Regions from separate parts of the Homo sapiens genome. Here all the other regions are linked to region 2. The links come from fine-mapping of genetic effects on gene expression. A gene starts in region 2. Each other region holds a variant in brackets. All regions are shown on one strand. Distances are from middle to middle.

Region 1 (10,716 bases), 140 kb after region 2:
TCTTCTTGTATCTATTCATTTTCAGGCATTAGAAGTTAAAATAATGGAAATAGGGCTGGGAATGGTGGCTCATGCCTGTAATCCCAGCACTTTGGGAGGCAGAGGAGAGTGGATCACTTGAGCCCAGGAGTTTGAGACCAGCCTGAGCAACAAAGTGAAACCCCCATCTCTACAAAAAATAGAAAAATTAGCCGGCCATGGTGGCATGTGCTTGTAGTCCCAACTACTCGGGAGGCTGAGGTGGGAGGATGACTTGAGCCAAGGAGGTCAAGGCCTGCAGTGAGCTGTAATTGCTCCACTGGCCAGCCTGGGCAACAGAGTGAGACCCTGTCTCAAAAAAAAAAAAAGAAAAAAGAAAGAAAAAAAAAAGGTAATATATTTCAGTGAAGTGCACAGTATTTCTTTCTCCTTCTTGACAGCGGCTCACACTTTTAATGAAGGACCCAAGCCAGCACAGTGCTCTCGTAGCCACAGCAGGTGTAAAAGAGAAGTTGACTGTTTCAAAGATAAAAACGATGAACCGTTCCCAAAATAAACATTAATCTTTTGAAACCATCAACCATGCAGAGTAATGCAAATACTAAATTGGGTTGTTTTCCAGGATGACTTTTCTTTAAGAATGTCAAATGGCAAAAAAAAAAAATGCACCTGCTTTTACAGCTGCGACTCTGAACAGAATCAAGCAAAGTCCCCCAGTGATGCATCCTGTCCAATCTCATAGGTATAGAAAGGAGGCATTCTTAGCTAAGAAGAAGAACTGGGCTATTTTCACTTTGACTTGCCCTTCTTTGCGTGTGTTCAAAGTAGTGCTATTTATAAAAGTTCTAAAATCAAAAGATTAATACAGTCGAGGAACTTTTGAGGCACCCTCTTAGACACTGGCTCAGTTTCTTCTCTTTCAGCAAGCTGAGCTGCAGTGACTGCCAACAAGGAGAGAAAGAAGGTGATTGCACGTGAGAATGTAGAAACTGGAGCGCTTCTTTCCAGCCTCCTTTGTGAATTCTCTCAGAGGTGGAAAGCCCATGGCATCATATCACAATAGCCTCCTTCTGTCATTTTAAAATGCACAACCAGGATTGTTATCAACAATATTATTGTTATTATTATTTTTGTCATTTTATTATTTTGGTGTGGGAGAATCTGATTCCCTGAGCATAAATGTGGGGGGGCTGTGTGTGTGTGCACACATACACACACATACATATTAAATGACAAATTAAATGACATACTATCCATTGTTGTTGAATAAACAAGAAATGTTTTGTCAACTCTACAGGAGATGCCAATAGAATCAATAAATACAGAGTGAATTCGAAGAGCAAGGTACTATGCCAGCCATTTTGAAACAAAGATGATTCATTCGAAAGGTAAAGTGACTGCTAATGGGTATGAGGTTTCTTTTTTCTTTTTTTTCTTTTTTCTTTTTTAAATAGAGACAAGGTCTTGCTATCAGGTATGAGGTTTCTTTTTTTTTATTGTGAGACAGAGTCTTGTTCTGTCACTCAGGCTGGAGTGCAATGGCTTGATCTTGGCTCACTGCAACCTCTGCCTCCTGGGTTCAAATGATTCTCCTGCCTCAACCTCCCGAGTAGCTTGGACTACAGGCATGCGCCACCATGCCCGGCTAATTTTTTGTATTTTTAGTAGAGACAGGGTTTCACCATGTTGGCCAGGCTGGTCTCGAACTCCTGACCTCAACTCCTGACCTCAGGCGATCCACCTGCCTTGGCCTCCCAAAGGCGTGAGCCACTGCGCCCAGCCAGGTATGAGGTTTCTGATTGTGGTGATAAAAATGTTCTGGAATCAGTGATGATGACTATATCACTTTGTGAATATACTAAAAATCACTGAATTGTAACTTTAAAAGGGTGAATTTTATGGTGTGTGACTTGTTTTTGTTTTTGAGATGGAGTCTCATTGTGTTGTCAGGCTGGAGTGCAGTGGTACTATCTCGGCTTACTGCAGCCTCCGCCTCCCGGGTTCAAGCGATTCTCCTGCCTCAGCCACCGGAGTAGCTGGGACTACAGGCACACACCACCATGCCCAGCTAATTTTGGTATTTTTAGTAGGGGTTTCACCATGTTGGCCAGGATGGTCTCAATCTCTTGACCTCATGATCCGCCTGCCTTGGCCTCCTGAAGTGCTGGGATTACAGCACCACTGCACCCAGCCTATGGTATGTGAATTCTATCTCAATTTATACATACATACATGCATATATATAATTAAAGAATAGCTAGTATGTGCCAGAGAGTCTGTGCTAGGCATTGGGTAAATCATACCTAACCTGTTTGAGTTACTGACTCTGTGTCAGCCTGTATGCGAAGTTCTTTGCATACATCCTCTTATTTGATCTTTATAATCTCCTTGGAGGGAATGAGTATTGGTACCCCATTTTATAGCTAAAGAAATGGATTTAGAGAGTCCCTTGCTCAAAATCACATGTGAAGTTAGGTTTAATCATGTGAAACTGCCATTTTGTAGACAGTATTTATGTTCATATGTCATCAGTTTCTTATAGCTCAATCTAGTAAGTAGCTGTGTCTCTCTGAGTTTGTCACTGTGTACATCAGGAAACCACTCTAGCCAGATTAAGCAGCAAAGAATCATGAGAAGGTAAGAGCCTATGTCCATAAATGGCAATGTGTACTAAAAACGACTTCATATGAGTGAAGAAATAAGGTTATATTGTGTGAAGTCACAAATAATTTGAGGTTTATCTGTTATAGCACCTAGCACCACTTACCCTAATGAATGCACCAGGCCTATTGGACTCCAGAGGCTGTGTTCTTGTCCACTGGTAATTTGTCTCCTTCAGGGAGTTTAGAATCTGTTGACAGATACATGTACAATGTACTAGAATACTAGAATCAAAAATAGAAATTCCACTAGAGTGAAAGAAATAATGAATTATAAGGTTAACATAACAGAGAACACAAAAACCAGTGGCTTAACCAAACTAGGCCCTTATTCTTTTCACAAAGCAAGAAGTCTGAGGATACAGTCCAGAGTTAGAAGGTCATCCTCACAATTCCGTTAGCGACCCAAGATATATCTTCCTTTCCACACCACCATCCTTAGCGTGTGGCATTCTGTGAAGGAAGGATAAGTCAAAGGACAAAGGTGCATGCCAGTCAAATTAACCCCTTTTTAGGCCCCCTCTGAAGTCTCTCCCAGAAATGAACACTTGACAAGAACTATTTCAGTGGCTGCTTGTGATTTCAAGGAAGACTGTAAAATATTTTTTTTTATTTTTTTATTTTTAAAAACAGGATTTTTTTTTTTTGAGATGGGGTCTCACTACATTGCCGAGGCTGGTCTTGAACTCCTGGGCTCAAGCGATCCTCCCGCCTTGACCTCCCAAAGTGCTGGAGTTTAAGCTACGTGGCATGAGCCACGGTGCCCAGACTAAAATTTGATTATTCCTAAGATGGTGAAATTTATCACTCTGTACAAATTAGGATGCTGTTAGTAATGGAAAATGAGGAGTGAACAGTAGGAAGGCAACTAACACATTCTGCCTCATACAGGAAGAAAGTTCAAAAGCCTGGGTAGACAGAGACGGACAAATGTCTACTACAGGGATCAGCCAGGATTTACACCCAGGTTTGACTGCTCCAGAGCCAGTACTGTTAACTCCAGGTGATGCTGCCTCCTTCATGGAGTATATAGTGTAGAAATGTGTTTGCACTACTTACTGTGACATAAAGATATTATATTAGTTTCCTATTGTTGGTGTAGCATATTACCACAAACTCAGTAGCTTTAAATAACAATAATTTAGGGTTTTACATTTCCAGAGTTCAGAAGTCCAAAATCAGTTTCACTGGGCTAAAGTCAAGGTGTTGGCAGGGCTGGTTTCTTCTAGAGGCTCTAGAAAAGAATCCGTTTCCTTGCCTTTTTTTAACTTCTGGAGGCTGCCTGCATTCCTTGGTTCATGGCCCCTTTCTTGAATCATTCCAAGCTCTTGCTTCTGTGTCCCATCTCCTACTTTCATAATGAAATCTCCCTCTTCCTCCTTTTTATAAGGACACTTGTGATTACACTTAGTGCTCATCCAGATAATTTAAAATAAACTCTCCATCTCAAGATTCTTAACCTAATCCTATCTGCAAAAAAATTATTTTGCTTTATAGGGATAAAATCAAGAGGTTCCAGGGATTAGGACATGGATACCATTGATTGACATATTATTCAACCTACCACAAATAGTAAGTTAGAAATTATTAAGTGCAAGGAAAAAAAAAAAAAAAAAAGGATGACCACATTGGCAATTGCCTTGAAAAAGGAGCAAGCAAACTGAGAAACATAAGATTCAGAAGGCCAAAAGAGAAATACTACTTGGAGAGCCTGAAAGAAGAGTATAAACAATCTGGAAATGGAAAGATAACACAGACATCATGGGGAATAAGTAAAATAACCCTAAACTACAAACAGGCTGTGTCAGAGCTGAGGGGAAACTTTGAGACCGAGAGACCCAGTAAGGGTTTATCTCCAAAGCTAGACAAAATGTGGTTCAAGATTACTCATGGTGGCCAAGCGTGGTGGCTCATGCCTGTAATCCCAGCACTTTGGGAGGCTGAGGCAGGCAGATCACTTGAGGTCAGGAGTTCAAAACCAGCCTGGCCAACATGGTAAAACCCCATCTCAACTAAAAGTACAAAAAAAAAAAAAAAGAAAAAGAAAAAGAAAAATTAGCCTGGTGTGGTGGCACATGCCTGTAATCCCAGCTACTCAGGAGGCTGAGGCTCGAAAATCGCTTGAACCTGGGAGGCAGAGGTTGCAGTGAGCCAAGATCACGCCACTGCATTCCAGCCTTTGCAACAGAGTGAGACTCAGTCTCAAAAAAAAAGAAGAAGAAAAAGATTACTCATGGCCCTGGGAATGTCTTCCAAGCCTTTTGTACCCTCCTGTGTCCTTTCCAGTGATAGAAGGCGGCTCTGGCTCCTCTTAAAGTTTGGAGAGCCTCAAAATCAGTACTCAGATGAAGCAAGAGAGGTGCCTGGTGCCCACACTGACCCTGGACTTGCATCACCCTAAGTGTCTCCTTACTTCTTAAATTTTACACAACAGACACCTCACTTTCTCTCACCCCAGTCCCCAGCTCTGGATAGCTTATAGATAAGCAAGGCCTTGAGGTCTTGAGGAGTTTACCAAACCCTGAACAATGTGAAGAAAGACATTTTAAGCGGTATAATTTATCAATCTTCCTCCTATTATGAGCCCTTGAAGACATTTTAATTTCTGAGTCTAGACATTTTGATGAAGCAAGGCATCCCTTCACCCAGGGGAGCACTCAAACAAAAGCTGAATGTCTCCTACTATTTGCTTTTGCTTTTGGTTAACTTTATTTCTTTTTTTTTTTTTTTTTTTGAGATGGAGTCTCCTTCTGTCACCAGGCTGGAGTGCAGTGGTGTGATCTTGGCTCACTGCAATCTCCACCTCCTGGGTTCAAGCGATTCTCGTGCCTCACCCTCCCGAGTAGCACACGCCACCATGCCCAGCTAATTTTTGTATTTTTAGTAGAGACGGGGTTTCACCATGTTGGCCAGGATGGTCACGAGCTGCTGACCTTCTGATCCACCCACCTCGGCCTCCCAAAGTGCTGGGATTACAGGCGTGAGCCACCGCGTCCAGCCTTCCTT[CCTTTCTTT/T]CTTTCTTTCTTTCTTTCTTTCTTTCTTTCTTTCTTTCTTTCTTTCTTCCTTTCTTTCTTTCTTTCCTTTCTTTCTTTTCTTTTTTAAGATGGAGTTTTGCTCTGTCACCCAGGCTGGAGTGCAGTGGCACAATCTTGGCTCACTGCAACCTCCGCCTCCCAGGTTCAAGTGATTCTTTTGCCTCAGCCTCCCCAGTAGCTGGGATTGTAGGTGCCCACGACCATGCCCCATTAATTGTTTGTAGTTTTAATAGAGACAAGGTTTTGGCATGTTGGCCAGGTTGGTCTCAAACTCCTGAACTCAGGTGATCCGCCCACCTCGGCCTCTCAAAGCACTGGGATTACAGGGGTGAGCCACTGTGCCCGGCTTCTTTAGGTTAACTTTCAAGTCATCAAAGTTCAAGTGTCTTAAAAAGGAGGCCACACCCCAGGGGATTCCTCCCTGCAACAGGCCTGCAGGGACCTCAAGAAGATCTCTGTGAGGACACAGGAGGCACCCAGGAGGCCTTGCTGCTCATACCCCTGTGTGACCTGGATTCTGTGGACTGCCTGTGCATGGCTCTTTTGCTAGTTTGGTGGTAAAACAAAGCAAAAGGTGAAAAAGAAATAAGGATTAAAAGTATCTGCTATGGTTTAGATATGGCTTATTTCTTCCCCCCAAAAGTTACGTTGAATTTGATCCCCAATATGGTGGTGTCGGGCCTAGTGGGAGGAATTTGGGTCATGGGGGTGAATCCATCATGAACAGATTAATGCCCTCCCTCAAGGGTGAGTGAGTTACACTCTAGCTCTATTACTTCTTGGGAGACAGCCAGTTGTTAAAAAGAACCTGGCACCTCCCACCCTGTATTAGTCCATTCTCACATTGCTATAAAAAAATACCTGAGACTGGGTAATTTATAAAGAAAAGAGGTTTAATTGGCTCATGGTTCTGCAGGCTGTACAGGAAGCATGGTGCTGGGATCTGCTTGGCTTCTGTGGAGGCTTCAGGAAACTTACAATCATGGCAGAAGGTGAAAGGCAGAGCAGGAGAGAGAGAGTAGGGAAGGTGCTACACACTTTTAAATGCCCAGATCTCATGAGAGTTCACTCACTATCACAAGGACGGTACCTAGGGGGATGGTACTAAATCATTCATGAGAAAGCCATGTCATAATCCAATCACCTCCCACCAGGCCCCACCTCCAACACTGGGGATTATGTATCAATATGAGATTTGGGCAGGAATACACATCCAAACCATATCACCTTCTCTCCATTGCTTCCTCTCTCACCATGTGATCTTTGCAAACACCTGCTCCCCTTTGCCTTCCACCATGAGTGGAGGCAGCCTGAGGCCCTTACCAGATGCAGATGTCCAATCTTGGACTTTCCAGCCATCAGAATCATGAACCAAGTAAACCTTTTTTTCTCTACAAATTACCCAGCCTTAAGCGTTCTGTTATGGCAACACTAAATGGACTAACCATCAAAGTCTAAACAGGAATGCTTTTTCTTATTATGACTAGAAAACATGTAACTTCTCCTGATGAGACTGTCCCAGAGAAAAAAAGAAAACAATCTGAAAATGCAGGAGAAAAAATGAATCCAGGAATGTTTGAAAGTTAACCTTTAAGCTCATGTTCCCTACAAGGGTTGGGAAGAGGGGCCGGTTTGAAAGACTGATGATTTGCTCTTGTGCAGGGTTCATCGACCCTGACAACATTACATTTGGGGTCAGATAAGTCTTTGGCAGTGGGGACTCTGCTTTGCATTGTAGTATGTTTGGCAACACTCTTGGCCTCAACCCACTGTATGTCAGTGATATCTCTGCCCTAACTGTGACAACCAAAAAAATGTCCCAATATATTGCCAAATGTTCCCTGGAAACAGAAATAGTCCCTGACTGAGAACCACAGCTCTGGGGAGTTATCAGTGCTTCAGCTGAGTTCATCAAAGTAACTTTCCCATCATAGAATTCCTGTTAACTCTGAATGAGAAGAAAGGCAATAGTATTCTTCAAAATGACATGTCACAGAACAGTAACTCATCATTCCTGTTACCCTAGAATAATAACCAAAAATAGATTACAAATGGATTTTTATATATTATATGGAAGCCCTAAATTAGTGGAGGAGGGGAGACACAGGGAGCTCACTGTGCCCCTCACAGAGACTTCCAAAACACCTTATACCTCTCCATCCACAAAAACTCACCTGCAGATGCTCCCTCGTCCTACCCTTCTTATCTGAAAATGATACCAACAGCTACATCTTTTTAACTCTGCAATTCAGGGAATCTCAATGGAGATCATTAGATAGGTGACAATTGTTTTAAAGTGTTGAACTTTACACGTACCTAAAAAGTTCATATATATGTGTGCTCTATAAATGAAATTATATATTTTTTATATATGAAGTTATATATATACTATATATAATTTTATTGTATATAATAATATATACAATATACATATACATTTATTGTATGTAGTAATACAAACTGGCCCCTCTTCCCAACCCTTGTAGAGAGCATGAGCTTAAAATGTAATTATAAAATAACCCTGGATTCATTTTTTCTCCTGTGTTTTCAGACTGTTTTCTTTTTTCTCTGGGACAGCCTTATCAAGAGAAGTTATATGGTTTTTAATCATAATAAGAAAAAAATTCCTGTTTAGACTTTGATACTTAGTCTGTTTAGTGTTGCTATAACAGAATACCTAAGGCTGGGTAATTTATAGAGAAAAAAAGGAGTTAGTTTTTTCTAGGAACCAAAGATAATAGTAAAATGGACGTTGGTGCAGCTTCAAGTGTTTCAACACAACATCCTCTCCATGGATGCTCACAACAAGGTGGGGAAGTGATTAGCATCATTTCTTATGCATCTGGTGTCCATGGTAGTCACATAGATAATAGGCCTTTAACTACCTCTGACACCAAAGAGGAAGTGCAATGTGGTGCACATTGTACATTGCATGGAGAGAAACTGCCTGTCAGGACCACCCCTCTCTGCAGCCCCTATGTCCTATCTTATGGCTGTCAAGGTAATCAAGTTGCTATTTATAAGGAGGCCCAGGCCTGCCATCCCCACCTTCTCCCCTTCCTCCAGCCCCCATCCCCACCCATGCTAGTTCTGCCTGCAGTTGCTGCTCTGCAGTTCTCTCCTCTCAGCAACATCAATTTTTCATTGCTTCAAGCCAGGTCTCTGAGCATCCTTAAAGCACCTCTCCTGATACCTCCTGTACAGCTGGTTCAGTGATTAGCTCTGGGAAAGAACAGAGATGGACCATTAATTCCCAAGGCATGTCAACATTTCCTTGACTGTCTCCCTGTGAAGAAGTCTGGGGTGTTGGGGAGGCAGCTGTTTTGCAGTTTCCCCATAAGAGTGAGAAAAGTAAACCACAGCAGAAGGATGAATAGAATAGACATAAAGTTACAATGGGGAAAGAAAACTCCGCTTTAAAACAGGTTCCTTAAGGGCAGGATGTTGAAGATTCCAGGTGCTGTTTAAACTGTGCTGTCAAGGTGCACTGTATTTCTTTCCATGCTTCCTGTTTGTCCCCTGTAAGACAGAGTCTGAGGGCAAAGTCATCCCCACCAGTTGTAAATATCTACCCTAACAACTGATAAGGAGTACAATGGCCATACATCTTTAGACTTCAGGGTAGTTTTGTTAGTTAGGATTCTCCAAAAAATAAAGAGAAGCAACAGGATATAGTGTGTGTGTGTGTGTGTGTGTGTGTGTGTGTGTGTGCGCGTGTGTGTGTGTGTGTGTGTGTGTGTGTGTGTGTGTGTGTGTGGAGAGAGAGAGAGAGATTGTGGGTGCTGGCAAGTCCAACATTTGCAGGTCAGACCAGCAGACTGGAGACCCAGGGAAGAGTCGATGCTACAGCTCAAGTCCAAGGCTGCTTGCAGGCAAAATTATCTGTTCCTTGAGGGATCTCAGTCTTTTTTCTTAAGGCTGTCAACTGATTGGATGAGGCCCACTCACACTATGGAGGGTAATCTGCTTTACTCAAAGTCTACTGATTTAAATGTTAATCACATCCAAAATACCTTCACAGCAACATCTAGACTGGTGTTTCACCCAGTTGACACATACAATTGACCATCAGAGCAATCCTAAAACCTACCAAGTACAATAGGATCTGAATCAGGGCTGAAATATAGGCAACTGCCCCTAGGGAGCCTCTCTGAGATGATCTGAACTTGATAAACGGGAAGGCAGTTCTGCCTTGCACCTACCTCTCTGCTGCCATCTTGTTCAAGTCTGCCCTAAAACTGTAACTCCTGCTAGATCCCCATATTTCCTTCCCAAATGACCGCAATGCTTACACAAGCCCCTTGTACTTGCTGGCCTTTGCTGGTAGTTCAAAGTCAGAATGGTTGCCTAGATCTCAAGTAGGCCTAGGCCACAAATATTGGAGCACTAATGTGGGGAGCCTGGAGCTATTCTGGGATGGAGGAGCCTGGGTTGGAACCAAGAGCCAAGATAAGTAAGCACAATGTAATGGAAAGATTACTAGCCTGGGAACAGGGTGACCTAGCACTATATTTGTCACTAACAAATATCAATTAAGCACTGTGTATCTATTTCCTTATTTGTAAAATGAGAGGTTTGGGCTCAGTGACCCAGAGCTGTATAGTCCTTTCGAGCTCTAAGATTTGTTGGTTTCATTAGGCTATTGTAATGTGGGGTCTGACTACCGGATGGCCACCAAATCCATGGCCAAGCTGGCCCATATTTTAGGAGCCAGAGTATTTTGGATTGCCTTTTTTTTAAGGGATGGGGTCTTGCTCTGTTGCCCAGGCTGGAGTGCAGTAGTATAATCAGAGCTCACTGCAGCCTCTCAACTCCTGGCTTCAGGTGATCCTCCCATCCAGCCTCCCAAAGTGCTGGGATTACAGGTATGAGCCACCATGCTCAGACTAGATTGTTATTATTTATCCTTTTATCCATTCATTTATTAAACTTGTGCCTACCCTATGTAAGAAAATCTTCCATAGTATTATGAGAAATACAAATAAATTAAATACAGTATCTCTGCCTCAAGGAACTTAAAATCCAGTTGGGACATAATTCAG
Region 2 (10,716 bases):
ATATTGTGTAAGAGATGGGGTCTAGCTATGTTGCCCAGGCTGGAATGCAGTGGCTATTCAAATAGGGCAATCCATAGCCTCAAACTCTTGGACTCAAGCAATCCTCCTGCCTCAGCCTACTGAGAAAAATTTTGGCACAACCATATTGGAAAGATGACTGGAAAGAAAGCTTGCATGTGTGGTTAACAGGCAGTAGAATGATCAAGAAGAGAATTTTCTTCCACTGGGATTCCAACAGATAAGACCTAAAACTGAAAAAAAAAAAAGTAGCATGTTATTAAGAGATATGAAGGTCAATACCTACAGGAAGAGCTAACAAGAATTGAGAGTGAAAAATGGAGAGTAGGAGACAGGAACCTTTTTCTCCTCATAAACCTTGTGTAGTTTTCTCACTTTCTATAGCTGTAGAACTAAATTTTGGTAAAATGTAAATCTAACTTTTTTCAAAAAAGATTTCTCTCTGGCTGTTTCTACACTCCATAGCAATGGATATTGTTTGCAAAATGGAGATTGCATCTTTATTTCTGTTGTTCATAAAGCTCCATCTACTCCAAAGGCCTTTAGAATTTCCACAGTGCAGCCTACAAAGCTCCTTTTTTCCCCTGCTGTGTTAGTTATTTTACACTTATCATGGGTTCTTTCCTTAAAAATGCTGCTGATTGACCACTCGGTCATTTACCCCAGACTAATTCTAAAAATAAATGTTTCTTGTATTGATTAAATACTGTTATCTCTATCTCTACAGACTGTATAATGTTGTACAGTCATTATGCAGGCCCAGATTAATGACATACTAATAACTAAAAGGATAAAACTACAGTTCTTCACATAAAAACATTTGCGTTAGGATACTTCTAGTTCTGCATCATATAAAGTGCATCGACAAAACAACTACTGGCTTGTATTGCTTGAAAAAATTATTTCTAAGCCTGTCTTTTTAAAACTAAATTTATTGTTAAGTGTGTGGAATATTGAGGGCAGTAGCTGGCTGTGTAAGTGAATCTATTTTAAATAAAGATAATTGTTTTTAAAAATAATATAGGCTCAGGTCTGTTTATTTTAGTGGCATTAGCGAAAGACATGACAGGAAAAAAAAAGATTTTAAATTATTGACTTAGATGGTAAATCCTTAAAATGAAGGAATAATTGATGCCCCTGTTTTTCTTTCTACAGTATGCCATGTGAAATTTTAGTCGCATTATTATTTGAGATGCTGGCACGGTCAGTTTTTTACTTGTTCAAACATTTGTGATTTGGTTTTAAAGAGAAACTTAAGTCCAAAAAAAAAGTAATACCAATGTTCTCACCAAAAGAGGGAGGAACTCTCTCTACTTTAATTCATAATACTTAATAGGGAATTTTCAAAAGCAAAAATACTGTCAGTTGCATTTTCACACTTGGGTGAGAATATCAGTTTGAAGAGGCCTGATTCTCACCCCACACATTGTTTCACAGAGAAGAAAACTCACATAAGGAGGCCAGCCAAATCCAGAGGCATCTGCATCTCAGCCCAGGGTTCTTTCCCATGGCATGGCCTCACCCTTGGGGTAAAGGTGATTATCATCATATATAAAATAATAACTACAATGAAACCGCACATTTATTGAGCACTTCATATTCTTCTGGCAGTGCTCCCAGGCATTCCTGGGTTAGCTTCTGTAACCCTCACAGTTTCCCAAAGACGTGGGTGCTCTGACTACCCCCACTTTACCTAAGGAGCTCGAGGTACAGAGGTTTCATAGCAGTCCAAGATCCCCCAGCCGGTGACTGAGCCAGAAACTTCACTGCAATCATGTACCGAAGCCCTATTTAATACATTAAGTGCTTACGGTAAAGTAACTGTGTTACTTCAATGTATTTTTAAAAGGTCCCCTAAGAGAGCTTTGTTATCAAGTAACTTTTTCTCTCGAGTGTAAGGAATTTCGGGGTGGAAGGATGATTAGAGGCGATTGGAGGACGATTAGAGGAGAAACTGTTTTGTTTCCTATTTCTAAATATCTGCCAGGTCACTGTTGGAAATACTTTTTAGAGTAAGAATTGTAAAATCCTAACCTTATCACTTGTAAAATATACAGGTCAGTTAAGCAAACTTTCACCCCTCAATGCAAACTTGGAAAAAAAAAAAAAAAGCAAAGAGACTTCGGAACGTCTATGAGGCTTTTGGAATTAAAAAATAATTCTTACAGCCGACTGCAGCCCTAGTCCTCAGAAGCCCGGGGCGCACCAGTCCCCAGGCCCACCAGGGCACTGCTGTCCGCCCAGCCCCAGGCCTCAGCCACCACTGTGAGGGCGAGGGGCCCCGGGGCCGCGATCTGCCCTCCTCTGGTCTCACACATGCCCTTGGTTTTGTATCCCAGGCCACGTGCGCCGGGGCAGCCGCTGACATTGGGATCTACAGGGTAGTGACATTACGGACGAGTCAGCAAACCGCGGATCTCGCCCATAGGGGGACACACCCCCAGTCCCAGCCGGCCTTGGGAAGTCTCTGACTTCTAGCGCCTAGCCCTCGAAAGCCGAGAACTGGAGAAGCAGGTTCCGGGAGCCTTAGCAGCCCGGGGCGCAGACACCCCCGTGGAGGCTGCAGTAACCTGGCGACTGGGACTTGGGAGTGTAGATGTGGGTTCCTTGCCGAGGCGTGGCAGGCGTGGCAAGTCCGCAGCCGTTGGACACACGTGCCCTTTTTCATAATCGGCAAAGCCTGCGCCCCGCCTGCTTGGCTGGTAGGAATTCGGCACAGACAGCCTGGAGTTCCAGAGCTCAAAATTTGGCCATGCATTCCCACTGTCAAACACCTCTCGCCTCTTTGCTCTAAAGGGTGAGTCCGAGGTGGCCAAGATGGCAAGGCGGTGACAGCAGCGCCATTATCGATGGCTTCTCTGTCCACTCTCACCTGTTCCTGGGGCCTTCGGCCTCAGGTTGCGCTGTCCCCTACGACCAGCGCCCAGGTGCTCGGCCATGCCAAGTTGTGGACTAGCCCGGCGCCTGGCTCAACTCCGCTCCCCTTCGGTCTCATCCGCGTGGCACTGGGGTCTCGGGGAGCTTTGCCGGGATTGCACCACTCACATTCCAGGCGCGTGAGCGCCAAGGGGGAGCAGAGACGGGATTCCCTCATCGCAGTGCTCCTAATCCCTGACTAGAGGGAGGAGGGATCGGCGCTATACCGGCATCTCAGTCCGCCTTCCCTCAGATTCTACCCTACCGTAAAATGGGCCACACTGGCGATTACACGTCCGCGTCCCCCCGCTCCCCGAAGCCATAGCCACCATCCTCAGCCTCGAGCTCTTTGTCCAGTTTGGGTTTTATTCCAACACCCAAAGACCCATGGAGAAAACTTGGGGGACAGGTGGAAAGAAGGTTCAGCGCTCGTTTCTTCAAAAGGCACTCCCGCAAAGCTTAGCTCTGGGCGCATTAGAAACTGCGTTGCAGAACACTCTGGGAGAAGTGAGTGTCGCCAGAATTCAGACACACAGGGGCATTTTTGGTGGAAACCACAGAAGCTCGTTTATAAGGGGCTGGAAGGGAAATGAAAGGAATGAGAAGAGTGAGTCAACAAGCCTTTAAAAGAAACCTGGGGTCTGTGGAAACAACAGTCAGAGAAACCCCAAGAGCGGGCGAGCTAAGTGGCGACGCCTCGCTGCGAGGCGTCCGCGGACGCTTCCGCACTAAGTGGGGGCGCACGCTGGCAAAGGACTGGGGAACAAGTTCTTTCCGCCTCGGATGCTTCAGACCCTGGATGGAGCCAGGCACTGGGAGTGCGCCCCCTAATCACCAGCCCGGCGCTGGCAAAGTGGAAACTGGGAAGAAAAAACATCGAAGTGTTTGACAGCACCTGTTGGACCTGGGCACGCAGGAGCTACAGACGCCCTCTCCTCCAACCCCTTCACCTCCCTGGGACCCTCTACGTACACCGCGATGGGCGGTCGTCAAAGGTTGTCGCAGCCACACGGCGCATACCTGAACGAGTGCCCGCGCGCACCCGACCTCAGCGCCGCAGTGGGGAGTGGGGTCTGCAGAGTGGACGAGTGTGCAGGGAGAGCCGCGGAGAGCGGTTGGGTTAGGGCCCGGGGCCCGGGACGCGCCCCTGCTCACCTCTCTCACTGGCCTGGATATTGCGCACGATGTCTTCCAGATCCAAGTCTTTGGTCTCGTCGAAACTGTAGATGGACGTGTGCAAACCCTCCTCCTGGAAGACCTCGTGGACCCCCTCGAGGGTGAAGTAGCAGTTCCGCTCCAGCTTGTCGTCGCTGTAGACCAGTGCAGCGCGGCTCCAGTGGTGGTGGCGGAACAGGGCGAGCATCATCTCGCCCATCTTGGCGTAGGCGGGCGCCACGCGCGTGAGGTGCGAGTACTCAGAGTCCTTGTGCTGGAAGCCAGCGGCCAGCGCCCCAGCCGACAGCATGGGCAGGTCCCAGTGCGATGCAAGCCGGGCCACTGGCGCTGCTGCATACTCGCACACTGGCCCCAGGATAAGGTCTGGCTTGGCGCCCCGCGCCGCCGCCACGCGGTCCACCAAGCTGAAGAGCGCACGGTTCCCACAGTCTGAATCCTCGTAAGCCACCTGGAAGCGAGTGCCCGGCGGCAGAAGCCGCCTCCCAGTCCCGTTGCCCTCCACGCTGCGCAGAGCATACTCGATGGCCGGCCGCACCCGGGTGAGTGAAAACAAGTACGAGTCATCCTGGGGCAGTAACACCAGCACCTCGATCTTCTGTGGCGGCAGCGCCTCTCTCTCCTGGCGTCCGCCGCCTATGCCCGCGCCACCGCCGCCGCCGCCAACGCCACCGCCACCGGTGCCGCCGGCCAGCAACGCCCAGCCGAGTAGTACGCACGGGGAGAAAGTGAGCACCAGCAGAGACGGCATCGTGCCGCAAGAAAGAGCTTGCCCTCGCCGCCGCCGACTCGCCCTCTGCCCCCCACCCACCCTTCCTCTTTCCTCCCCACTCTTCTCTCCAAGGTCCCTGCGCCCCCTTGGGCGCTTTAACAAAATAGAATACCCCCTTCACTAATGCGCCAAAAGATAGAGAGGAAGCGTCCTTCTCTGCAATGTCACTAGTTTTTCTTAAAAAAAAAAGAAAAAGAAAAAGAAAAAGTTCACCGGGTGTAAACCTGTGCGTCTGTAATATACATATATATATACTTGTATATATTCGCCCTCCGTTTATACATATACTATTTTGCTTAGAGGTGGCTTCTTATTTGGGCGTTGCTAAGGTTGCTTTTGAAAGCGTTTTTGTAGAAGAAAAAAAAAGTTAGACTTGTCCAAGTGTTTGTAATTGACGGTGCATCTCCCTCGCATTTGATCTCATTGATTCGCGCCGGTTCCTGGATCCATAGCCCGCGTTTAAATAGCGTGGCAGCGGCTGAGCGTGTTACCACACATGGCGCGCCGAGGCCGGGCTTGTGTTTCCAGCGGGTGGGGTGGGTGGGGGTGGGGAGATGTGGGGGCTGGGCTGGGGGAGTCTCTCATTAACATTCTTACATCAGGGCTCCTCCCTGCACCCCTTCACTACCCATCGCGCCCCTGTCCCTAACCACCACTCCCCGCAGGCCCTCTGCCTTTTCCTTAAAGCTGAAATCGCCCACGTCTGCACCGGCAAGAGCCCCCACCACGCCGCGTGCCTGTGCGATCACCGCCTCTCCCTTTCCACGCTCTCCAGCTCCTGGCTTCAAAAAAGGAAACGTGCTTTAAAGTAGAGAAATGCGCGCGCGCACGCACACATACACACACACACACACACACACATATACACACACACACCGTGCAAAAAAAAAAAAAAACCAGGACTGGGGGAAAGGGATGGTTCTAGAAATTGTGGTTTCGGTGCAAAAATCCTTAGGTGCCGCTTGCTCTCACCTTTCTCGTTCTGGCCACATTCCCTCCTGAAGCACCGACGCGGGGCGAGCACCTGACCTTCCTGGTCCCTCGGCGCAAGGTCAGGGAACAAGGACCAAGGTCCCAGTGCAGATGGCTCCATCGCGGACCTGGTGTGCCCGGCTGGCCCGGGCGTCACCTACACCCCGCCTTCCTCAGCCCCGCGCCAGCCCCCTCCCCCTGGGCCACGCAGGTTTGCGCTGGAATCGCAGCGGTGCCGAGGTCACAGTGTCCCAGCTCACGGACCCTCTGTCAGCGCACTGAGAGCAGGAAAGTGAAACTTGTTGCTCCCAAAGGCGAGGGAATGGTTCAACTTCTGGAGGTGTCACAAAGCTTGGAAAGCATCCCCAAAGCGTCCTCGGGGCTTTGTTTGCTAAACCAGGTACCTAAATAAAGGGACTGTCTTTCCCAAAACGTTCCCGGTAGGTCCCCCGGGTACGACACACGCTCCCCTCCAACCTGAGTGCTCAAAGATCCAACCGCTCCTTCTCTGGAGCGCTCGAGGCACTGTGCTGGGGTTCCGCGACTCCAAGAAAGGTCCTGCCTCGGAGACCCAGTCCTCCCACTGGCCATAGCCACAGCAGCGGTGGAGACCGGAGGGAAGCGGCTCTGGAGAAGTCCGTGACCAGAGGAGCATCGCGGGAGTCCGCCGCGCGGCGGGGCGGGTCAAAATGGAACTGGACCTTCTGTGCCTACTGCAGCCAAGTCATTTGCAATGTGAACGGGCTACACTGGGCGGGAGAATTCTGACAATTAAGTCCCGCACATTTAAATACATTGAAAATGTGTTAAAATGGTCTTTCATTTGACTAGGCGTCCGTGTCCACAAATTTCTTTTAGTCTCAGACCGACGCCCTCTTTCGGCAGAAACTTGCACCCGACTCAACCCGGGTGCCGCAGTCCCAGACGCTGCGTTTTTTACTCCGAGGCCTTTAACGCGCTCTGGTTCTCACTTGCGACGGTGAAAAGGCAAACTGGGGTTTCTGGGGATATGGCAACTTCTGGCGTCAGCGCTCGCCTCCCTTAACAGCACTCTCCTTATCGCTCTTTCTGGAACCGTCAATGTGATTATGGGTAATGTTTCAGCTTCTGGGTCATTTATATTCAGATTATGCACTGTGATCCCGAAATCTTCACTGTTAAGTAGGAGCTTCTAATTCCTGCGAGAATTTCCATTTATTTAATTAGAGCCACTAACCAGGAGCAAAAGAGACATCTGTATAAAATTTAATTCCACAAACAGGGTAATCCACACACACTGGAAATTGAGATTTAGTGCTCCACAGCAATTAAATCTTTCCTGAATTTGCAGAAGGGCAGGCGTTTATGGCAGCACAGATTAAAAAAAAAAAAAAAGAAAAAGAACAACAACAAAACAAGAACTAAATCATGAATTCCAAGGGTCTTAATGGATTTCGAAACTGGTTGCCAGGCACTGTGCTGGGGTTCCGAGACTCCAAGAAAGGTCCTGCCTCGGAGACCCAGTCCTACCACTGGCCACAGTGGTAGGAACCAGTGTTTCCTATTACTCTGCGGTATGCCCTGTGTCTGCGGAACACCAGCCAATGGCGATATGATTCTGCCGCGTGTGGTGTGGGTTTATGCGGAGAGTCTGGGGTTTCAGTGGCACCGGTGTGAACGCCTGTCCCATCCCAGATGCTACCTAGCCTCGCCTGCAGTTCAACAGCAGGGCAGTGCGCTTAAGTAAGGGTGAGTGCCCGTAGCCTCTCCGCAGCTTTTGGACAAGAGCTCTCGACTTGCAGTTTGTCACACTCAAGAGCAGCAACAAGACCAAGCTGCGGAAGGGAAGAGACCCCAAACCAAGCAGCGGAACGAATTAAAAAAAAAAAAAAAGCCAGTGTTATGCTTTTGCTGAAGCTCAAAACACCCCTTAAGAATTCCAGTGAGCAACAATTAGGGTTTTTAAAAAACCTTTTCAAATGAAAAGAGTCACAAGATTATGGGAAGACCCACCAAGTAATGTAAGTGTATGGATTTCAAAGTTACGGGTTTGTTTACTTTCCATCAAGTTAGAATTTTTGCAACCAACTGAAAGTTTGTGTAAATAAGTAGTTCTAAATCTTCAGGCCAGAAGACTTAAGTCACCCAGCCTGACACCCCTTACTCTCTAGATGAATTAAGGCCCAAACAGTATAAGTGATATACTTAAATACCTCTTCATCCCCTGAGAATATTTTTAAATGGGATTGTATTCAAAGTAAACCAAGGACCACCAGTTACATCATGTGAAAGTGTTAGGAACAAAGTTAATTTCTACTCTAAGTAATAACATTCTTTATATCAAATTTTTATATATATATATAGCTAAGTTTGGAGGCTAATACAGCACAATAAACCCAAAAATAACATTTTGTAATAGAATTTTTGCAGCACTTTAATCACAAAAATGAATCAAAAGGAAAAAATAGAAATAACTTATTTATTTGACTCAATTTTTAAATATTATTTCTTTCAATTCTGTAAAACACTGAAATGGGGAAAAATAAGTATTTTTTTAACATTCAAAAGAGTGGTAACCTTTTTACTAGGTGCTTCCTTTCTGGCTTCAGTTGTTGAATGAAACCAAAGGAAAGTTATGGGAAAATGCTGCAAAATGAAAGAAAATTAGCCATTTGAAAGAAAGACAATGTTAGCTCTAAACAGGATATTTCAGAAACTAATAGACTTTTTATGAGGTTTAGAAATGTTTTACTTAATATCCACAAACCATGTTTTGTTGTTTGGGTTGTTTTTTTTTTTTTTTTTTTTAAAGCTACTACAATAAGGTGGCAAGCTACTACAATAAGGTGGCAAGTTTTCTATAAAGTATTCAACGGTTTATTTTCCAGCTCTATGAAATGAAATTACTGTCTATATGTTATTTCTCACTACCAGGAAAGACAGCATTAATATAGGAAAACTAACATGTGATTCTTTGAAGTGTATTAGAAATTCTATCAGAAGTAAGTTTTCTCCACCACCAACTGTAACAGTCTCTGCAACTCTTCTCCCTTGGCATCCTGGCTGCAACCTCTAAACTAAGAACCCACCTAGATTTTCAGAGGTCCTTTTCTCCCTTGTTGAGCCAGCCCTAAAGTTGTATTCGAGAATACCCCTGTGAAGCCTGTGGCCCACAATAAAATACCTTCTGAGGCCAGAATTGTTGAAAACACACTCCCCCCTAGAGGCAGAAAAGATGAAAGAACATTACAAATAATTCAAGAACATTTCTGTAATGTAATCAGTGTTGAGATTTCATTCTTTACATATAGTTGCTGTTTTAGAGTGAACTATTCAAGAAGTGGGGAAAAAAAATCAATGGATGCCAAAAAATTAAATTAAAATTTTGCCTCTAGGTTCTTACTTTCCTTAGCAGGGACTTTATTAACTTACTCTTTTTCTTCTATTATATAAATCTATTATTTTAATTTGCCAGCACTATAAATAATAGTAATTTTATATTTTTCTAATTAAATTTATAATTCAATCTCATCAGAAGCTGCAGCTAAATGTGACCTTAAGGGGTTCTTTTGAAAACACAGAGTTGTTTCTTTATTATAATCCTCTTAGATTTCCATCAACTACCATCTTTTTTTCACTTCTTTGAAGATGTTCTGAGGCAAAGTGACATTAGAAAGACTTCTGAAAAACGTATAGCTAGTCAGTGATTTAACCTGAATACTGGCATAAGATTTGCAAGCTATATGAAGAATTCTCATATCATTGATTTATAGACAAGTTAATTTATGTAGATTATTATATTCACAAAAACGAGTGTGAATGGGGACTTCAAAAAGTTCATGTAAAATGGAATTAAAAGATAAAAATTTAAAATATGAACTTTATTTCTTAACAAAAGATTCATCAAGTTCAAGACACTCTTCTGAGTGGTGATCCCAACCATGTAGTTTATCCCTAAAAAACCAAGGGTCCTGGAAACTTAAGCATGTCAATGCAATCTTTATTAACTGAAAAAAATAAAAAATGAGTGCCCTTTACAAATTTATTTAAGATCAGGAAACAAAGAGAAGTCAGAAGGAGCCAAATCAGGACTATAAGGTAGATACCTAATGATTTCCCATCAAAACTCTCACAAAATCACCTTTGTTTGATGACAGAAATGAGCAGGAATATTGTCGTGGTGGGGAAGAAGTCTCTGGCGAAACTTTCCCAGACATTTCTAGGCAAAGTTTTGACTAACTTTATCAAAACACTCTCAAAATAAACAAAAGTTACCATTCTTTGATCCTCCAGAAAGTCAACAAGCAAAATGCCTTAAGCATTTCAAGAAACCATTGCCATAACCTTGGCTCTTGACCACTTCCACCTCTTGGTAGCCACTGCTTTAATTGTGTTTGTCTTCAGGATCATGTTGGTAAAGCAGTGTTTCATCCCCCTGTGTATTAGGCCATTTTTGCATTGAAATAAGGAAATAACTGAGACTGGTTAATTTATAAAGAAAAGTTGTTTAATTAGCTCATGGTTCTGCAGGATGTACAAGAAGCATGGCACCAGAATCTGCTCGGCTTCCGACGAGGGCCTCAGCAAGCTTACAAGAATGGCAGAAGGCGAAGGGGGAGCAGGCACCTCACATGCTGAGACAGAGTGCAGGGTTGGCAGGGAGGTGCCACACACTTAAACAGCCAGATCTCATGAGAATTCACTCACTATTGCCAAGGACAGCACCAAGTCATGAGGGATACGCCCCCATGACCCAAACATCTCCCACCAGGCCCCGCCACTGACATTGGGGATTACAATTCAGCATGAGATTTGGCAGGGACAATTCTCCAAATAAATGCTTTGGGATATTTCACTTGTTTAAAATTTCCATTGAAAGTTCTGCT
Region 3 (8,888 bases), 110 kb after region 2:
TCAAACAAGCCTAGACATTTGATTGGAAGAGAAAAGATCAAATATGAAGTTCACAAACCAAAAGTTTATAAACTCAATGCAATACAAATCCTTTTTATTGTAAAAGCTGAGTTGAAACTAAAAGATCTATAAAAACTGTTACTTTTGGCCTTAAACAGTACCAACTCTTATGATCAAAAAAGGCCACAACAGTTAAGATTGTATTACTTGATTTTATTTTACACTAGGTGGTGGGCAGACAAAGTAATCCTTAATAAAGTTGACAATTAGCTTCACTCAATATTTTTAATAATGCACATTAAAAAAAAGTATTCATCTTACAAATTCTTCTGCAATCCAAACATACAATAGCTTGGAGAACATTTAGAAAACAAAAGCCAATGTAAAAAGACAGATTAAAACAACTAGAACAGTACAGGTTTTATTTATATGGCTCGAATTTTACAGTTTTCTTACTGCATCATCAATGTCAGAAATCTGTTCCTTCAGCTGGCTCCATTGTTCTGGATTTAAAGAAATACCTAAAACAAAGTTTAAAAATTCAAAGGTGAAAATCTATTTAAGCGTTGAGGATTTTCATACTTCCAACTAGAATACTGTTTTATCAAAATTGCCACTTTAGGCTGGGCGCGGTGGCTCACACCTGTAATCCCAGCACTTTGGGAGGCCAAGGCGGGTGGATCACTTGAGGTCAGGAGTTCAAGACCAGCCTGGCCCAACATGGTGAAACCCCATCTCTACTAAAAATACAAAAATTAGCCGGGCATGGTGGTGGGCACCTGTAATCCCAGCTACTCAAGAGGCTGAGACAGGAGAATTGCTCGAACCTGGGAGGTGGAAGTTACAGTGAGCCAAGATCATGCCACTGCACTCCAGCCTGGGCAAGAGAGCAAGACTCCATCTAAAAAAAAAAAAAAAATTGCCACTTGGACACAATGCTACAATACTGAAAATCATATCTCTTACATTTGTTAATTACATATCATCACAATTTACTGAGCATTATCAATCTCATATCCAGTCTTACTTTCCACAGTGCATCCTGCATAGTACCTATTGTAACCAATGAGAATAAATAAGGGTTTGAAGACACATCTTACTAATACCCGTCAACTATCAGGCTAAAATGGTCAGGTCCAGATTTGGCATGTGATACCCCATTACTATATTTCCAGCTGGTTCCAATATTTGCCCAAAATTTCCACAGGAATTCAAGCCAATTGTGCTGAGTTCTTCCAGAAGCATTCATTTCACTTTGGAAAAATTCCCAGGACGTGATTCATACAGGACTCCTCAGAGAGTATACCCGGGTAACTGCACTCTAGGGTCACCCTATCAGGGTTAAAATTCCAGCCTCACTTTCACTAAGTGTATGACCCTTAAAAAAGAACTACATCACCTTGTAAGCCTTAGTTTCCTCACCAGTAAAATGGCATCTATACGCCAAAGAGTTGTTGTAAATGATTAAGTAACATGAATAATGAACTTAGCATATCACCTAACACATAAATGGTTAAAAAATGTGAGATATGTCTTTCCAGTTTAAGATGTAAAAGTATGAACAGAAATTTTATATTTTCTATATTTTGTACTTTAACGTTCTAGCATTCCAATACCGACGCATATAAACAGAGAAGTAAACAAGAACTGGCAGAAAGTATTCCCAGAAAACTGCTGGAAGGCCATGAAATTGAAAAAAAAGAATAAACAAGAAATATGGCATCGGCCACTCTGGTACGTGAATTACCAATCCAGAAGTGACTTGAAGAAAATATGAAAGCATATAAACACATATAGAGGCTGAGTTTAACCAAAAAAAAAAAAACTGCATGAAGCAAACAAGTGGTACCTTTCAAACTAACAGGCAGGCAGAATAAAACTAAATAAGGAAGCATTTTTCTTTAGCTGAGGGTCAACCTAGAGCAGCAATCCAAATATACAAATTTAGGTTGGCTCACCTTCTCTAGCTGTTTGGTGAATTATACAAAATATGTTTCTACAATGCTAAGAGGCTTGGGACTGGATGAAGCACAAATGGAAGGAAAGCAGAGATCCGCTTGAAGAGTAATGCCCTAAAGAATAGCTTTTAGGAGCTGAATCAAAAGGAAGCATTGTAAACCAAGATTTTCCATTCCTGATTTTACAAGTTCCCAGATAGTGCCTAATCTGCTTCAGAATTGCATAAACCTTTTTAAAAATTGTTCAAGTAAATTAGCAGCCAACTGAAGTGATATTAGGGGTGTTACTTTTCTGGGTTTTATTCCCAAAAGCTGTATTAAGACATCTCATTAAAAAAATGTTAAGTATCATGTCCAAAATAACTACAGAAGATAGAGAATCAATTGAGTAAGACTCTTCCTTGCCCCGTGTGTCCTGCCAACATTTCAAGTAAGCTACTCAGAAAAGTTGTCGTTTAGTCCTAACACTGTAATAAAATTCAAGTAATTAGACCTCACCTTTTCTTCCTGGTTTCATTTCACCTTCAGGATCCATCCAATATTCTCTAATATCAATTAGCACTTTGCCTTTAAAATCGCGAACACTAACGTACCTCATTTTCCCAATCTGCAAAAG[A/T]AACAAACATAAAAAGAGGTGCTCCTTTCAAGAGTGGTATCTGTTTCAATTGTATTCATATTCACAACTTGCTGCATGCTCACTCTACATCTAATCATGAAAATGACTACTGCTGACCCTTGAACAACATGGCTCTGAACTGTGCAGGTCCCACTTATATGCATATTTTTTTCAATAAATATACTGGAAAAATTTTTGCAGACTTGACAATTTGAAAAAACTCACAGAACAACTGCATAGCCTAGAAATAACGAAAACATTAAGAAAAAGTTAGGTATGTCATGAATGCATAAAACATACCTAGATATGAGGTTATTTTATCACTTACTATCATAAAACATACAAATCTATTATATGAAGTTAGAGAGAAATGTAAACAAAGATGGAGTATTAATTCATAACTGCATAAAATTAACTACAGTAGTGTACTAGTGTTAACTTCATAGCCACTTCCTGTTATCTCAGTGTACTCAAATGTTACAAGTATCTGCTTAAAACACCTTGTGTAAAACACCATGTGATGCTAATCATCTCTGCTGAGCAGTTCATGTCTCCAACAAATTGCGTATTGCAGTAAAAAGTGATCTCTCACGGTTTTCACATTATTTTTCATCATGATTACTGCAATACCATAAACTTTAAATAACACCATGAGTCCTATACAAAGTGCCCCTAGTGATGCTGAAAGTGCTCCCAAGAAGCAGAGAGAAGGCATGACATCACAAGAAAAAAACTGCCAGAAGCAGTGGTGCATGCCTATGATCCCAGCTACTCAGGAGGCTGAGGCCGGAGGATCACTTGAGCCCAGGAGCTTGAATCCAATCTGGGCAACACAGCAAGATCCTGTCTTTAATTTTAAAATGCAAAAAAATAAAAATAAAAATAAAAATAAAAAAGTTGAATTGCTTGATATGTACCACGGACTGAAATCTGCAGCTGTGGTTGCCTACAATTTCTAACAGATGACATATTTTATTAACAGATGACATATCTTATAAACAGACAACGTAAACTAATGTTATTGATAAACACCATACAGTACAGTAAAATGTAATTTTTCTCCCTTATGATTTTCTTAGTAATATTTTCTTTTCTCTAGCTTACTTTATTGTAAGAATACAGTATATAATACATATAACATACAAATATATGTTAACTGTTTATGTTACTGTTAAGGCTACCAGTCAACAGTAGGCTATACTTAGCAGTTTTGACAAAGTCAAAAGTTATAACCAGATTTTCAACTGCACAGGGGTTGGTGCCTTGCATTTTGACCCTGCATTGTTCAAGGGTCAACTGTACTACTCTCAGTATCAAAACTGCAACCAAAGGAAATTGCTGTTTAAACTATCATATGATCCAGCAATCCTACTTCTGAATATATATCCCAAAAAATTGAAAGCACAGACTCCAAGAGACATCTGCACACCCATGTTCATAGCAGCATTATTCACAAGAGCCAAGAAGTGGAAACAACACAAATATCCACCCAGAGATGAACTGATAAACAAAATGGGAGAGGGGGGGTGGAATAGACACACAATGGAATATCAATTAGCTTTTAAAAAAGGAAATCCTGTTACATACTACGTCAATGAAATAAGCCAGTCATAAAAAGGAAAAAGGTAATACTTTATGATTCCACTTACATGATGTCAAGTTCACAGGAACAAAAAGTAGAATGGTGGTTACCAGGGCTGGGAGAAGGGGAACTGTTGTTTAATGGCCACAGAGGTTCAGTTTTGCAAGATGAAACAGTTTCGGCAATCTGTTTCACAACAATGTGAATATACTTTTATGGTTTTTACCAGCAAAAAAAAAAATCATTAGGAAGCAATATTTTGCAGTACAAACTACAACCAAGAGGAATCCACAGATGCAACTAGCTACACTGCTTCACCAACCATTCTGAATATACGAATCCAGAGTTCCAGTCAATAACAACCAAGTTTTTCCTTTTCATGTTCACTTCAAATAACATCTTTAATGCACCTCACTCACAGTCAGATTGAGAACTTAAAAATATTCACAGAAAATTATTTTTCAAAAATCTTATATATCTGCTTACCACAAATTACAAATTCCAGAGAAAAGAACAGGCTTTCCTCAACAAAGTGTCTCTTAGCACTTTCCAAGACTCACTATAATATAGTAAGGGAAGACAATGCAGTACTGGAGTAAAGACAGACATAAGAGGTCAGTGGAACACAACGGAGTCAAAAAATACACACGCATTGGATATATTCACTGATTTTTTTGGGGGGAGGGGGTAAAATCCAAGGTAATTCAAAGGAATAAGAATACTCTTTTCAACAAATGGTGTTGAAACAACAGGCTATCTGCATTTGGGGTGGGGAAGACTCTAAATCTCTATCTTACATCATACACAGAGAAATTAATTCTACATGAATTATAGACCTAAATGTGAAAACTAAAACTATAAAACTTCTAGGAAAAAACACTGGCAAAAATTTTTGTGGCCATGGTAGGCAAAATACGTCTTGGACAGAAAATAAGCATTAAGCAAAAAAGGAGAAAAATCGATAGAATAGACAATCACACTAAAGCCTTTTTTAAAAAGATGCTTCAGAAAATAAAAAGGTAAACCAGAAACCTAAAGAAAATATTCACTCAAGTTGGAGCCACAGGGGTCTTGGCCTTCGAGGAGAGCCTGAGGAAGAAGCAGAACCGTGGACGTGAAGAAAATGATGAACTGACCAGAATCCGTGAGGACCTCATTTCCAAGAGAGAGAAGATCTGTCACAGACGCCCCTGACCAACTGCCAGTCCCCCCTTATTCTGTCTGTTTGATTCTCTCTGGTTTCATATTTTCCTCTCTGTTAACCTCCACTCATTTTTGAACTAGATTGCTTTGAAAACTAAAGTTTCCCTGAAGTCTAAAAAAAATATTAATTATACTTACATCTGACAAAATATATAAAGTGTTACAACTCAAATGACCTGGCATTTTAAGTGGCCAAAAGATACTCTTCACAAAAGATATAAAAATAACCAATAAACACACTAAAGATGTACAATGAATTAAGACATGTACATGAGGGAAATGGAAAGTAAAACCACCATGAGCTACCATTATACATTCAATGTAACTAAAAAGAAAAAAACTTAAAAGACTGACAATATCTAGCGAGGATGTGGAGCAACTGGAATCTCCTAAGTAGTACCGATGGCTGTGTAAAATGCTACAGCTACTATGGAAAATGGTTTGACAGTGTCTTATACAGTTACACATTTACCCTACGACTCAGCAAATGTATCTGGTATTTACCCAAAAGGGAAAAAATGTCCACAAAATGACTTGTACAAGAATATTCACAGCAGTTGTATTCCTAATAGCCCAAGACTTGATACAATCCCAATGTCCACCCAAGGTGAATGGATTTACAAGTTGTAGTATTATCATACAAAATACTACTCAGCAATAAAATTACTGATATATGCAACAAGAACTAATCTCAACACATTATACTGAGCAAAAGCCAGACACAAAAAATAGACTGCATGTATCCATTTATACAAAGTTCTAGAAGAGACAACATAAATCTATAGTGGTAGAAATAAGATCAGTGATTACCTAGGACATGAGCAATGACTGTAAAGCCAAGAGGAACTTCCTGGGGTGATGAAAATGGTCTGGCCACAAAGGCGTGTACATTTACCACAGCCTATCAAGGTATGCTTTTAAATGTGTGCGTTTTATTGGACATAAACTATACCTCAAAAACATTTTTTTTTTTAAAAAAAAAAGGAATCTGCCCAACAGCTGCCTCTCCCTTGGGGGGAAAAAAAGAGTAAAACTGACAAATTCTTATTAGCAAAAATTAAACAAGTGATGAGATAGTAGTATAGGGATATATTACTTAAAGATAGAAAAAATAAAGATCACTGAAATCACATTTTATTGGAAAAAAATAAAATCAGATGACAATATATTTTATATCCACAAAATCTGGAGATTAGCAGCAAAAAATAGCATATACATCATAAAGAACTGTGATTCTTATACGAATTTGATTCCCTGTCCCCTCTGAAGATCTGATAAAGCAGTGGTTCCTAACCTTTTTGGCACCAGGGACCAGTCTCACGGAAGACAATTTTTCCACAGCAGGTAGGGAAGGGGAAAGGTGATCGTTTCAGGATAAAAATTATCCCACCATCAGGCATTAGATTCTCATAAGGAATAAGGAACGCACAACCTAGATCCCTTGCATGCGCAGTTCACAATAGGGTTCGCGCTCCTATGAGAATCTAATGCCGCTGCTGATCTGACAGGAGGCAGAGCTCGGGCTGCAATGTTCACTCACACACCGCTCACCTCCTGTGCAGGAGGGACCCCTGTGATAAAGGTTATGAATAATTCCTTCAAACACAAAAAAGAAAACTCAAATTAAAAAACAATTCTATGGACTCCTGCCCCAGATTAAAATGACCAGTTATAATCATTTTAAATTAAATAATTTAAAAGTATCAAGTATCCTTAAATCATCAAATAAACTAAAGCAGTATTACTGACCCTTTGTGCCTAACTCTGAAGAAAAATATGGATTAAAGTTTCCTGCCTCAACTATTCTGACCTTTCAAGACACAGGTACTAAATAATTATGAGATAATTCTCCAGTCTCTTTACTATCACAGATGTCACCTCAGGTAGACTACATCCCTATGGAAGAAAGTTCTTCAAAATCAGAGCTGAAGGAACCAGGAAGTAAGCATCTCTAGTATCTTCTCTCTAGTCACGATTCTGCCCCAATCACTTCAGACTTTAAAAGATAAGTCTATTGATTTTTCTTTGGTACAACTCTTTAATACATTTAGAGAACTGCTTATGTATTGATGTTTGATGTACATCAAGCTGTAATGGCAATGAAATTAAGTATCATATTATTTCATAATGCCTACACTACTAGATCCATGAAAGCCACTCTGAAAATAAGGCCTAGGCTGGGCGCCGTGGCTCACACCTGTAATCCCAGCACTTTGGGAGGCCAAGGCAGGCAGATGGCGAGGTCAAGAGATCGAGACCATCCTGGCCAACCAGGTGAAATCCCGTCTCTACTAAAAATACAAAAATTGGCTGGGGGTGGTGGCGCATGCCTGTAGTCCCAGCTACTCAGGAGACTGAGGCAGGAGAATCTCTTGAACCCAGGAGGCGGAGGTTGCAGTGAGCCGAGATTCGTGCTACTGCACTCCAGCCTGGTGACAGAGCGAGACTCCGTCTCAAAAAAAAAAAAAAGAAAAGATGACCTATGTTCCTCCTAGAGGCAGGCTTTCAAAAGGTGCAATGTCAGCCTTAGGAGGCTTAGGAATCTTTCCAGATGAGGGTTTAAGAAATGAAGCTCCGTTTTTCTGGTGAGAAAATTCCTAAAATTAGATCTAGTTTTCACAAAACTCCTCTTAACAGAACAGAATCTCTAAAATGTGTGTTCTGAACTAAATAGTTCATCTGCACTTTGTCTATCTTTTTTACCTAGAAGTATAACAAGGCAAAAATAAGCAATAGGAAAAAAAAAACTTAAATTTTCCCATTCTCACCTTAATCTTGGCACTCCACCTTTCAAAGTTATCAACAGGTCAAAATATACATGTGTTAGCCTTACTTTCTAGTCATATAAATGTCTACAGTCTTGGCCAGTCACGGTGGCTCACGCCTGTAATCCCAGCACTTTCAGAAGCCAAGGTGGGCGCATCACTTGAGCTCAGGAGTTCAAGACCAGCCTGGGCAATACTGTTTCTACCAACAACAAAGAAAATTTGCCAGGCGTCATGGAGCATTGCCTGTAGTCCCAGTTACTCAGGAGGCTGAGGCAGGAGGATCATTTGAGCCCAGGAAGCGGAAGTTGCAGTGAGCAGAGATCACACCACTGCACTCCAGCCTGGGTGACAGAGCAGAGACCCTGTCTCAAAAAAAAAATTGTAGTCTCGTTCCACCCAACTTTTTGGTTTCAACTAATACTTATAGCTCCTGGAAACACTCATCCTTTTCTTGCTCCCATTACTGCACTCTTCTAATTTTCCTTCACCCTCTCTCTTAACCTACATCCTCTTTTTCCTTCCATTCTCTATCTGAATATAACCCAAGACATCCCCTCATCTGCTTCCTGTTCTTCCTCTGTTTAATACTTCAGTAGGCAGCTTTAGTCAACCATGCTGATAATCCCACATGAACATTTCCCAACTAAGCCCTTCAGGTGCTACAGAAGCAACACCATTTTTTTTTTCAATCACATCCACAATCAAGTCCACATCTTCACTGACTGCCTAATTCCTCTGGTCCATTCTTCCTAACCTGTATC

Direction of the effects. Positions count from the first base shown, and alleles are read on the strand shown. Sizes are in standard deviations (SD) of each study's normalised expression. Not every link is listed here.
In carriers of allele CCTTTCTTT in region 1, the expression in CD4 T cells of the gene that starts at base 5,314 in region 2 tends to be higher than with T alone (large effect, 1.7 SD a copy in Kasela 2017).

What was found.
Region 1: its variant is fine-mapped to the expression of NPR3 in CD4 T cells (Kasela 2017, PIP 0.95).
Region 3: its variant is fine-mapped to the expression of NPR3 in blood mononuclear cells (TOPMed, PIP above 0.99).

The regions. Positions count from the first base shown.
Region 1 is chr5:32,563,205-32,573,920 of GRCh38, reverse strand. LOC124900954 (a long non-coding RNA gene) reads right to left here. Exons shown (of 5, transcript XR_007058719.1): 5 at 2,189-2,830. Among named protein-coding and RNA genes, the nearest start is that of SUB1, 17 kb to the left of the region's middle. RefSeq lists enhancers at 321-380, 671-760. The variant CCTTTCTTT/T (reference allele first, on the strand shown) is at 5,646.
Region 2 is chr5:32,705,919-32,716,634 of GRCh38, reverse strand. NPR3 (natriuretic peptide receptor 3) reads right to left here and starts at 5,314. Exons shown (of 8, transcript NM_001204375.2): 1 at 4,090-5,314. The coding sequence starts at 4,858. RefSeq lists a silencer at 4,058-4,352 and an enhancer at 4,228-4,953.
Region 3 is chr5:32,592,638-32,601,525 of GRCh38, reverse strand. It overlaps SUB1 (SUB1 regulator of transcription), which reads right to left. Exons shown (of 5, transcript NM_006713.4): 4 at 2,457-2,565; 5 at 1-521. The coding sequence ends at 442. Among named protein-coding and RNA genes, the nearest start is that of SUB1, 12 kb to the right of the region's middle. The variant A/T (reference allele first, on the strand shown) is at 2,575.